Linked DNA regions of Homo sapiens: all the other regions are linked to region 1. The links come from fine-mapping of genetic effects on gene expression. A gene starts in region 1. Each other region holds a variant in brackets. All regions are shown on one strand. Distances are between the middles of the regions.

Region 1 (2,689 bases):
AAAATAAAGATTTAACAGAGTGTTCATGCGACTCTTCCATTTTCATTACCATAAGCAAACTTTTCTAGTTTCATTCAGCAGATGTCTCAAGGCTGCTGCAGCGCATCTCATACATATTTTGTAAATGAGAAGCCTAACCACACGGGGGACTGCAAGGCTGGGCAAGGGTCACACTGCACGGGCATCACCTGGACATGAGATGCAATGTTTGAATAATTATTAGTTTCACCCTTAAGGCCCTTCTCCTTTCAAACTTCCCTAGTACAATTCTCAAAATGCTGAAATAAACACATTCCACAAACTTTCTTGTAAGAGGGTTTAAAGTGTCCTAGGAAAGTTGTTTTACAGAAAAGCCTATGCTGTCAACTTTGCTTTTTAATGCCCTTAAACAATTCTATTAGTCACAGAGGAAAAAGTGAACATTTGTTAGTAATTAGAGATAAAACATCTCCAGTTCTGGGGCAGAGGAAGGGAGAGGCCACAAGAGGACCTGGCTGGGAGGGGAGATAGAGTCGAAAGCCACACACCCAAATTGGACCGCTTAAGAGTTGCACTTTCCAAAGTCAACTTCTAAGTCTACAAGGACAGCAACAATGTTTCAGTGGATTCTGAAGTTACATGTATCAACAATTTCCCCGGAAAGCTAACCCTCCACCGGGAACTCCAGGTGAATGAATGAGTGAGGGAATTCGCCAGATTGAGTTACAAAGCCTTTCCAACGATTATCAAGAGCAGGTGCTCGGTTACAACACAGAGGTATCCTCCTTCACAGCCTTTGGACCTTGCTGCGTGGAGATTTTCACAGATAAGAGGGGGGAAATAGAGAGACAGGCCTTCCTCCCCGGCCATCCACACCTTAGGTGGCCACACCATGAGCGGCCCCTCCCTCTAAGAACCTCACGCGACTTCTGTGGGGGCCGCAGGCCTCAAGCGGCCAGGCTGCAACCTCTCCGGACCTGCCAACTTTCAGGGGCGCCCCAAACATGCCCAAACATGGGGAGGTGCTTCCGGGGCTTTCCCACTCCCCTTCCCCACAGTTGAAGGACCATTTTCAGGGGCTCTCCGTAAACCCGGGGAGGGGGCCGCCCTGTAATCTCAGCTGTTCCGACCCCCAGGTGAGGAGGGGACACCTGACCCCCGGCGCCCTGCCACCCCGCGCGCACCCCGCCCCCGCGCCTCCCTGGATCGCCATAGCAACCGTCCCCCTCCCCGCGTGCCGGCGTCACGCGGGGCGCCCCTCTGGTCTCGGCAACAAGTCCCCCGCGCGGCCCGCGGCCTGCAGCCCTGGCCCGGCCTCGCCGCCCCGCGCCCGGCCCGGCTCCGCCCGGCCCGGCCGCACTCACTTGATCCTGGAGCCCATGGTCCCCAGGCCTCCTCATGGGCCCGCGGGCCCCGCTCGGCGCTGCGCTGCCCGCCCGCCCGCGGCCGACCGGCCTCCCTCTGGCGCTCTCCCCGCCCCTTCCTCCCTTCCCTCAGGCTGGGGCCCGCCCGCTCGAGGCTCGCTCCCTCGCCGCCGCCGCCGCCTCCAGGGGTTAATGTACTCGCTCCAGCCCGGCGAACGCCATGGTCGCCGGCGCGCGTGCCCGGCGCGCGCCGCCCCCTCCGCCTCTCACCACCGCCCCTCCCGCCCGCGCTGCCGCCGCCGCTGCCCGCTGGGGCTGCTGGGAAGTGTAGTCCGCTCGCGGGGGCGGGGCCGTGGCCGGTGGGGGCGGGGCGGGAGCGCGGTCACCCGCACGTCTCCCAGGGCGCGGGCCCCGGAGGACTCTGGCGTTCCGTTGCAGGCCCTTACACATCTGCACCCCACTGCGCCCCGCTGGAAACCTCCACTCACAGCCGCCCTGAAGAGACCCTAATCCTCTCATGGAGACCCCAAGCCCTCCCGATGAAACCGCCACCAATCCTCCCATTGGAGGCCTCCCACCCAGCCTCTCTAACGGAGAGCTAATCCCCCGCCCAGGCCTCCATGAAAACACGTTTTCCCTTTAACATCCCGCACCTTCCAGTAAGTTCCGTGCAGAACCTCTTCTCCATCACACCGTCCACTTCCCCATCTGAAGGCCTTTCCTCTTCCTTTCCCCTTAGAGCTTGAAGGAGACCCCACATACCTACAGGAAAGCCACCTGGGGGCTTCGTGGACCCACGTGGTGGCTCAGCTCTGCCCTCCCGCTGAGGACCTCTGCCTCCCTTTATCAGCCGTTTTGGGAACTCCAACATCGAAGCCTCCTGTTAACACAACAGTCCCTGATAGAGATTAACTCAATGCAAATGAAAGGATTTGAGAGCCGAGATCACCAGCCTGCTACCTACCCCTGCTCCCCCTTGGGATTCACTTCCATGAACACCTCAATTTCATCCCCTCTAGGGCCAGAGGGATCATAAAGGAAGCAATAATCACAGCTACCATTAGCCACCCTTTAATGAGCGGGTGAGTGCCCTTTCTGCATCAGACACAGTATTTCCGTACATCATTAGTGCCAATCCTCACAATAATCCTGTGTTCATCTCCCTAATTTACAAAGAGGAAACTGAGCCACATTCCCAAGGTCACATAACTAGCAACGAGTGAAGAAGCCAAGATTAGTGTCCAGACTGAATCATTCCAGACACCTGTGACATAGTCATGCTTTAAGGTGGCACCTTTGGCCACAAGTCCAAAGACATTTTTAATATTAGGCTTTTTTTCCTTTTT
Region 2 (2,689 bases), 200 kb before region 1:
GATTCTTCCACCACACTCCATGCTGCCTCTCCCTATCACACGAACATACTTTAGCCATTCCAAAAATGACCATTTCCGAAATGCACCAGACCATGAAGTCCTTGAGGACAGGGATAGTGCTTTATTCACAGCTGAATCCCCAGTACACAGCACAGAGCATTAAAAAATGAATGAAGAGAATAGAGGGAGGAGCCTCTGGCTTTTACCAGTTGCTCACACACAAGCACCCACAATAGGTAGTGTGAAATTTGCTCCCTGGTATCATAGAAGAGGTATACAGTACTTGGGTAATTCTTAATAATGGTGAAAAAAACAGCAAGTGAAGAAAAGATCTTAAATATGGATTTTTAGCCTATGATCCAGAGACCACAGAAGGGGTTCTGTGAAAACCTATAATGTCTATAGAACTTTTTAAGGAAACCCACATAAACATTTTTTTGGAGACAGTTCCTGGAGCTTTCAGCAGACTTGCAAAGGTATCCTATCCTCCCAAAAAGTTTGCCTTCTAAGAGTCTTCTCCAATTTTATTGTCATGGGGCTGAGTGGGAAAGGCCAGGGACTCTGTGGTAGAGGGCTTATGTTCAAGTCATGTCCTCCAGGCAGTCATAGAACCTTGGTCAGGTGACTCTGAAGCTCAGTGTTGTCACGTGTAATTTACCCAGTTGTCACAAGATCTAAACGGGATGATCAGCATTAAAGTATTCAACACAATACCTTCTCTCTACTTGGCTAGTGTGTAAGGTATACAACAATAAAACATGAACAGGAGATGGTACAGAACCACTGAAGGAAATATAATGAGAGTACCAGCTGCTCTTCTTTTCCCAGAAAATGTTTTCTTGTTTAGTCATCTAAGAGAAAAGAGCCAGAAAACATCCACTTTTCCTGGAATGCCTACTACAGAGCCTCATTTATATCAAGCTAAAAGTTAATATCCATACTTCAAACTAGATTTTCTGAAGTAAAAGAAATTAAATGATATTCTCATAGGCAAAACAAAAGAAATTCTAAAACACCTATGACACTCAAGGAAAGAAACATGGATTCTGTCTCAAATCTAACCCACCTATCCAGAGAACAGCACTTTTCCGATCCTCCAGATGTATCCTTTGAAGCTACTTGCTTTGACATCATAATTACAAAATGGTGCAAGGGCTGTGAAATCATAAACAGATGATGACTCAAAGGACAAACATCAAGAAACAATCTTTTACTTGCTAAAGACCTTAAATGATAGGAAAACACCTTCAGAAAGCCAAGAATGAAAGTAATAAAAACTTAGTATTTAATTATTAGCTGTACCATTCATATTAGCACCAATAAGGGAAA[GA/G]AAAAAAAAAGGGAATAAATATTTAGGTATAAATCTAACAATACAGGTGTAGGAACTGTATGCCAAAAACCACAAAACACCAAAGAAAGAAATCAAAGAATCCCTAAATAGGCCAGGCGTGGTGGCTCATGCCTGTAATCCCAGCACTTTGGGAGGCTGAGGCAGGCAGATCATGAGGTCAGGAGATCGAGACCATCCTGGCTAACACAGTGAAACCCCATCTCTACTAAAAATACAAAATATTAGCCAGGCATTGTGGCAGGCTCCTGTAGTCCCAGTTACTCGGGAGGCTGAGGCAGGAGAATGGCATGAACCCAGAAGGCGGAGCTTGCAGTGAGCCAAGATCGCACCACTGCACTCCAGCCTGGGCAACAGAGTGAGACTCTGTCTCAAAAAAAAAAAAAGAATCCCTAAGTAGATGGAGAGATGTACTATGTTCATGGACTGAAAGACCCAAATATTGTAAAAAGGTTATCTTTGCAGCTGGGCGCAGTGGCTCACACCTGTAATCCCAGCACTTTGGGAGGCCAAGGCGGGCAGACAACCTGAGGTCAGGAGTGAGAGACTAGTCTGACCAACATGGAGAAACCCTGTCTCTACTAAAAATACAAAATTAGCCAGGCGTGGTGGCACATGCCTGTAATCCCAGCTACTCAGGAGGCTGAGGCAGGAGAACTGCTTGAACCCAGGAGGCAGAGGTTACAGTGAGCCGAGATCGTGCCATTGCACTCCTGCCTGGGCAACAATTGCAAAACTCTGTCTCCCAAAAAAAAAAAAAAAAAAAAAAAAAAAAAAACAGGCATCAGTCATCTTTACCCAAGTCATTTTATACATTCAATCCAATGTCAAACCAAATCACAGTGGGATTTTCTATAGCTATTAAAGGTCAAGAAACTAGAAGAGCAAAATTTATGTGGAAAAGCAAAGAAACTAGAATAGCTAAGACTATTTTAAAAATGAAAAACACAGCTGGAAGATTAATGCTATCTGATTTGAAGAATTACTATGATGCCACGATTAAGACAGTATAGTATTGATAGATACATAGATGCTACATCAGCATAATCCTGATACCAAAACCTGGCAGAGACACAACAAAAAAAGGAAATTTCAGGCCAATATCGCTGATGAACATCGATGCGAAAATCCTCAATAAAATACTGGCAAACCAAATCCAGCAGCACATTAAAAAGCTTATCCACCACGATCAAGTCAGCTTCATCCCTGGGATGCAAGGCTGGTTCAACATACACAAATCAATAAACGTAATCCATCACATAAACAGAACCAATGACAAAATCCACATGATTATCTTAACAGATGCAGAAAAGGCCTTCAACAAATTCAACCCCCCTACAT
Region 3 (2,689 bases), 54 kb before region 1:
CAACAAAAAGCAAATAAAAAACAACAAGGAGATACTACTATATAACCATCAGGTTGGCAAAAGTCAAATCTAACTGTACCAAGGGCTGATGAAGTTGTAGAGCAGTAAGTGTAGACTACCAAACACTGCAGGTGGGAGTACAGACTGGCACAATCCATTTTGTAAAAGTATGGCATGATTCAGTAATCAAGTATGTTCTATATGGAAATGTATGTTTACATGTGCCAGGATTCATACGTAGGAAAGGTCACAGTAGCATGGCTTATAGTAGCCAAAAACTGCGAACAACTTCAAAGGTCAACAGTAGAATGGATAACTAAATTCTGAAATAATTCTATAGTACACTACACAGCAATGAAAATCTATGACTGCAGTTACACACAACACGGAAGACCCTTTCAAACATAATTGAGCAAAAAAGCAGCAGAGCTACATACAGAATAATTCCATTTCTATAAAATTCAGAAGGCGGCACAATTCAATTATATTTTTTCAATGAGGTATACTTATGTAGCAAAACTATGAAGAAAAACAAAGAGATGATTATCATAAAAGTCAGGATAGTAGTTACCTCTGAAGGCAGGGAGGGAGGGGCCTCTGGGGTGCTGGGCAAACCCACCTGTAACATTTACAGGGCTTAGGCAAGGGTTCAAATAGAGACCTACAGACCATACATCTGAATATTTAAATATTTAAAAGTTTTAAAACAAGCATACAAACTATTAAATATTTTCTATCCTCCTGCCATAATAAATATACCTTTACAACTGACTAGAAGGCCAGGTTCATATTGTGTTTTTGTATTTTGCATTCCATGGAGAAAAGCAGTGGTGCAGGGCAAATTGGCCATTGGCTCACTGCCCACAGCCCCCTCTCCATCCTGTACTGCAAGCTCTATCCCATACCCTATTCCCCACTGACAGCTATCCTTAGGCCACCCTTAGACCTAGGGATGTATACACCAGTAGCATAGTCCACTCCCAGGAGGACAGACCCCAGGGGAGAGACTCACACAGGCTCCAGAAACAAGCTCAAGGCCATTTGGGCAAGAAGTTCTGAGATGCTGGGTGCTCAAAGCATGGTCTAGGATGGAAGGGTTTAGTCTCCAAGTGACCATGTTCCGTAGGCCCCAGAGACTCCTTGCCCTGTGGAAAGGGCA[C/T]TGGTAGAGGAGGGACAAAGCAGATCCTTCTAAAGCATCAGGCCAAGGCAGGGGTCCCTCTTGCCAGGACCAGTATTTCTGAAGAACTGGATAACATTATATTTCTTAACCTGGATCATAATAACATGGTTACTCAATTTATACTTATTTGTTAAACTATACATATGTTTTATGTACTTTTTCACAAATAACAGGACAGATATCATGGTCTGCTTACTGGATGCACTGAAAAATACATAACACTTTTGAGATACTTTTACCAAAAACCAATAACCTGCATCTAATCATGAAGATCCAATCAGACAGATACAAATCCAGGAACTTTCTACAAAACAACAGACCCAAATTCTTCAAAAACATGTCAAAAAAGACAAAGAAAGGCTGTAAAAATTATTCTAGGCTGAAAGGAAGTAAACTGACATGAAAACTAAATGGACTGCATGATTCCGGATTGGATTCTGGGTCATAGGGAAAATGCTGTAAAGGACATGATATAACAATTGATTAAATTTAAATATGGACAACTGACATTATATCAATATTAAATTTTCTGATTTCAACCATTATACTAGGGGTATATAAGAATATGTCTTTATTCTTAGGAGATATATCCAGAATATCTCCTGGATATGCAGGGGTGAAGGGTCATAATGTCTGCAACTCACTCTTAAATGATCCAGCAATAATTCTGTGTGTGTATACTCACATGCACACATATGTGCTGTGTATGTATTGGGGGGGTGATAAAGCAAATGCAGCAAAATAATAACAATTGACAAATCTAAGGAAAGAGCATACGCACTGGACTGTCCTTGTAACTCTTAAAATAGTCTCAAAACAATTCATTCGATCCAGCAATCCCATTACCGAGTATATACCCAAAGGAAAATAAATCATATTAAAAAGATAACTGCATTCATATTTTTATAGAAGCACTATTTACAATAGCAAAGATACAGAATCAATATAAGTGTCCACCAATGGGCAATTGGATAAAGAAAATGTGGAATACTACTCAGCCATAAAAAAGAATGAAATAATGTCTTTTGCAGTTCCATGGATGGAACTGGAGGCCATTCTTTTAAGTGAAATAGAAAGTCAAATACAGCATGTTCTCACCTATAAGTGGGAACTAAATGATGTGTACACGTGGTCATAGAGTGTGGAATAATAGGCACTGGAGACTCAGAAGGGTGGGAGGGGCTGAGGGATAAGAAATTACTTAATGGGTACAATGTACACTATTCAGGTGATGGGTACACTAAAAGCCCAGACTTCACCACTATGCAATATATGCATGTAACACAACTGCTCTTGTAACCCCTAAACTTATACTAATTAAAAAATAAGGGCCAGGCGCGGTGGCTCACGCCTGTAAGTAATCCCAACACTTTGGGAGGCTGAGGCAGGCGGATAACGAGGTCAAGAGTTCGAGACAGCCTGGCCAACATAGTGAAACCCCGTCTCTACTAAAAATACAAAAAATTAGCCGGACGTGGTGGTGGGCACCTGTAATCCCAGCTACTTGGA
Region 4 (2,689 bases), 530 kb before region 1:
TAAAATATTTTCCGCTGGATGCTTCCTGTGTTTCAAGAAGTTGGTCCTGCCAGCTGGAGCTGATGACAGTTGAGAAAAACACATCCAAGTGCTGTTGTGACATGGCATTTGGAAGGGGCGGAGCACAGTGGGGGGGTGGGGAAGCAGCATGGGAAGAGGCGTAGAAAAACACCCGGGTTGCACTAGAAATACCACTGGTATTATGGGAGAACAACTTCCCCTTCCTCGTTAAACAAACGTGAACAGAAACCCTTGGAATGATGTCCTGAAACGTACCCCTCTGTCTCCTTGTGGGCCCGAGCCACTGTGACGTACGCTCACAGAAAACCTGTCATTTGTTTTCTATCACTGGTAGTTTGCCAACCACCAAACTGGCTCCCATGCTCCCACTGGTTTATTTCAACCCCAAATATTTTCCAACAGAAGTAGAAAACAGGGCATATTAAACAAACAACAAACCAACCAACCAACAAAACTAAAAGTGATACTGACACAGTTCAGGTGATAAGCAGGAAAATGGGATTATCAGACACCGGCTCTTTGGCACACACTGCGAAGTCAGCCCCTCTGCCCAGTCTGGAAAAGCAACGGCGTAAGTCAATGTGATGAAGAGGTCCAGCCTCTCGTCGGGAACTTGGCCGCAAAATGGGTAATGCTTTTCTGTAGGATGTGGAGTGTAGCTGGTGTTGCAATGGTGTTTCTGTGTAATGCAAGAATATTCTGGGTTTACATCTCAATATCAACAGGCCTGTGACCCTGTATCCTGGTACAGTGTCTAAAAGGTTTAGTCCAGTTTTAAAGAGGGGACTTCAAAGAAATGTGACAAATTTCATCCCCTTAAGGAGGAATCTTTAGTCCGAGGCACTCAGGTGCCATGCAGCGTTCTCTCCATAAGGGGGCAATCATAATCCATCCCTCATGTTCCCACCAGGCTATTGTGCAGAGCAAAAGTTAAACTTAACCCAGCTTCAGGAGTCCTCTCTTCCAAATGTCTAATAACTGAGCATCCTTGTGTGCAAGCGCACACGT[GCA/G]CACACACACACACACACACGCACGCACACATATAATTCTGGAACTTTCTGGGCAAAGTCTGAGGGCTGTCTGGGTGGGCTGGTTCCTTAAAGACCGTACCCTCGCTATCAACCAGAAAATCCTGGAGAGCTGAAGTGAACTGCAACTTGGGTTAGGCCCCAGCTTGACAGCTCGAAATCATTTTTTTTCCTTCTTGCTCCAACTCTGACTGGGACCTGCCATGTCCCTTACCTTCTTTCCCATTTTCTGAGAGCCAGACAGACATGGGGGCCTCCCCCTTTCCACCCAAAGGACTTCAGGATCCCTGGGGTAGTTTTTCTGACTCCTCCAACAATCCTAGACCAAGACGAACTCATGCACTTTTTCAAGGCATCACAGGAAGTCAGCGTGTAGCCGCTGAGTTGTCTGGATAGAGACTGAGGGCTGTGCTCCTTTTGCGGACAAAGGGAAGCAGTGCTACCTTCTGCAGATGGCTCTGGTCTGGACTCGGGGCTATCTGCAGCCTTCTGCCTCACCCCACCACAGGCAGGTCCACTTCAGTCCACTGCTTGTCTTTCTGCCCCCCTCATTCACTTCATCTACCCCACGCCTCCTGAGCAGGTGACTCTAGGCCAGTCCTACGGGAGGTGCTGGGCATAACACCCAGGGAGCTCCGCGTCTCAGGGAGATGGGTAAGAAAAACCACAGTAACATAAATCCTCCGGCACAGGTGGGCAAAGGGTCCTGGTGGGTCTGGGGCAGTGGATGAGGGCAGTCCTGTATATAGGTTCTCGGCCATGGAGGCCTAGGAAGGTGGGTGGATCCAGTTCAACACTTGGCCTCCTTCACCAGGTTCTAACCCTCACCTACTGACTCGGCATCTTCAGCACAAGAGGCCTAGGACCTTCTTCTGAACCCAGCAAAGTATGCTTTGGACCCCACCCCTCGAAATCCAGCCCAAGTGCCCGGCTCCCTGGCCTCTGGGGCCTCCCACTGGTGTGACAACCAGACCGAGTAAAAGATCAAGTCCTGTTCCCTGAATGACCCCTTTGTGAAACACCCGCTGGGAGCCCCGGGGAAGCCTCACAAAGGCCGGGGCTACACGCTTGGGCTTCGCAAAGTGCTGGCTCCGCAGACACAGGGTTCTTACAGACAGAGGGGAGAGGCACAATACTCACTGCTCAGGGCTCGGCACAGACGTCCTCCGGCCTTCCACTGCGATGTTGCTCTTTGGTCTCTTAACAACATGTGGACGAGGTGGGCGCACCTAGAGGAGGTACAGGGGGAGAGCCCCAAGAAGGAGTGAGTTGGAAAAGCCATACAGGTACATTCTGAACATTTGGATAAACGGCCCCCCCAAAAAACGTTTAGGGATTTTCAAAGCTACAGGCTACAAAAGCCCAGCCTATCACAGAAACATCACCATCTAATAGGCAGCAGACAGACACATTAACTGGAATTCTGTGGCCTATTCAAATCAGAAGGGTGCTCCTGGAAAGCTCGGTTTCTTCATCTGCAAGATGAGGATAGTTCCATTGGCCTCCTTGCAGGGCTGTGGTGAGGGTCCAATGAGATGATGTCTACATAGGACCCGGAACAAAGAGGCCCTTATCAATGACAATTCCCTCTCATCTTCCTCTGATGCCCAGAAGCTGGTTTTGTAGAAAGAAAAGGTTGC

Direction of the effects. Positions count from the first base shown, and alleles are read on the strand shown. Sizes are in standard deviations (SD) of each study's normalised expression. Not every link is listed here.
As copies of G replace GCA in region 4, the expression in monocytes of the gene that starts at base 1,581 in region 1 goes down (moderate effect, 0.55 SD a copy in Fairfax 2014).

What was found. PIP is the estimated chance that this variant, and not a neighbour inherited with it, causes the effect.
Region 2: its variant is fine-mapped to the expression of DENND1A in whole blood (INTERVAL, PIP above 0.99).
Region 3: its variant is fine-mapped to the expression of DENND1A in whole blood (INTERVAL, PIP above 0.99).
Region 4: its variant is fine-mapped to the expression of DENND1A in monocytes (Fairfax 2014, PIP 0.95). The same link has a PIP of 0.9 or more in monocytes after interferon gamma.

The regions. Positions count from the first base shown.
Region 1 is chr9:123,928,546-123,931,234 of GRCh38, forward strand. DENND1A (DENN domain containing 1A) reads right to left here and starts at 1,581. Exons shown (of 24, transcript NM_001352964.2): 1 at 1,344-1,581. The coding sequence starts at 1,360. RefSeq lists enhancers at 438-517, 453-1,138, 768-967 and a silencer at 1,318-1,807.
Region 2 is chr9:123,726,385-123,729,073 of GRCh38, forward strand. All of the region lies in intron 5 of DENND1A (DENN domain containing 1A), which reads right to left. Among named protein-coding and RNA genes, the nearest start is that of DENND1A, 200 kb to the right of the region's middle. The variant GA/G (reference allele first, on the strand shown) is at 1,330.
Region 3 is chr9:123,874,696-123,877,384 of GRCh38, forward strand. All of the region lies in intron 2 of DENND1A (DENN domain containing 1A), which reads right to left. Among named protein-coding and RNA genes, the nearest start is that of DENND1A, 54 kb to the right of the region's middle. The variant C/T (reference allele first, on the strand shown) is at 1,160.
Region 4 is chr9:123,401,213-123,403,901 of GRCh38, forward strand. DENND1A (DENN domain containing 1A) reads right to left here. Exons shown (of 24, transcript NM_001352964.2): 21 at 2,190-2,278. It overlaps MIR601 (microRNA 601), which reads right to left and starts at 1,391; the gene lies at 1,313-1,391. RefSeq lists an enhancer at 1,394-2,015. The variant GCA/G (reference allele first, on the strand shown) is at 1,030.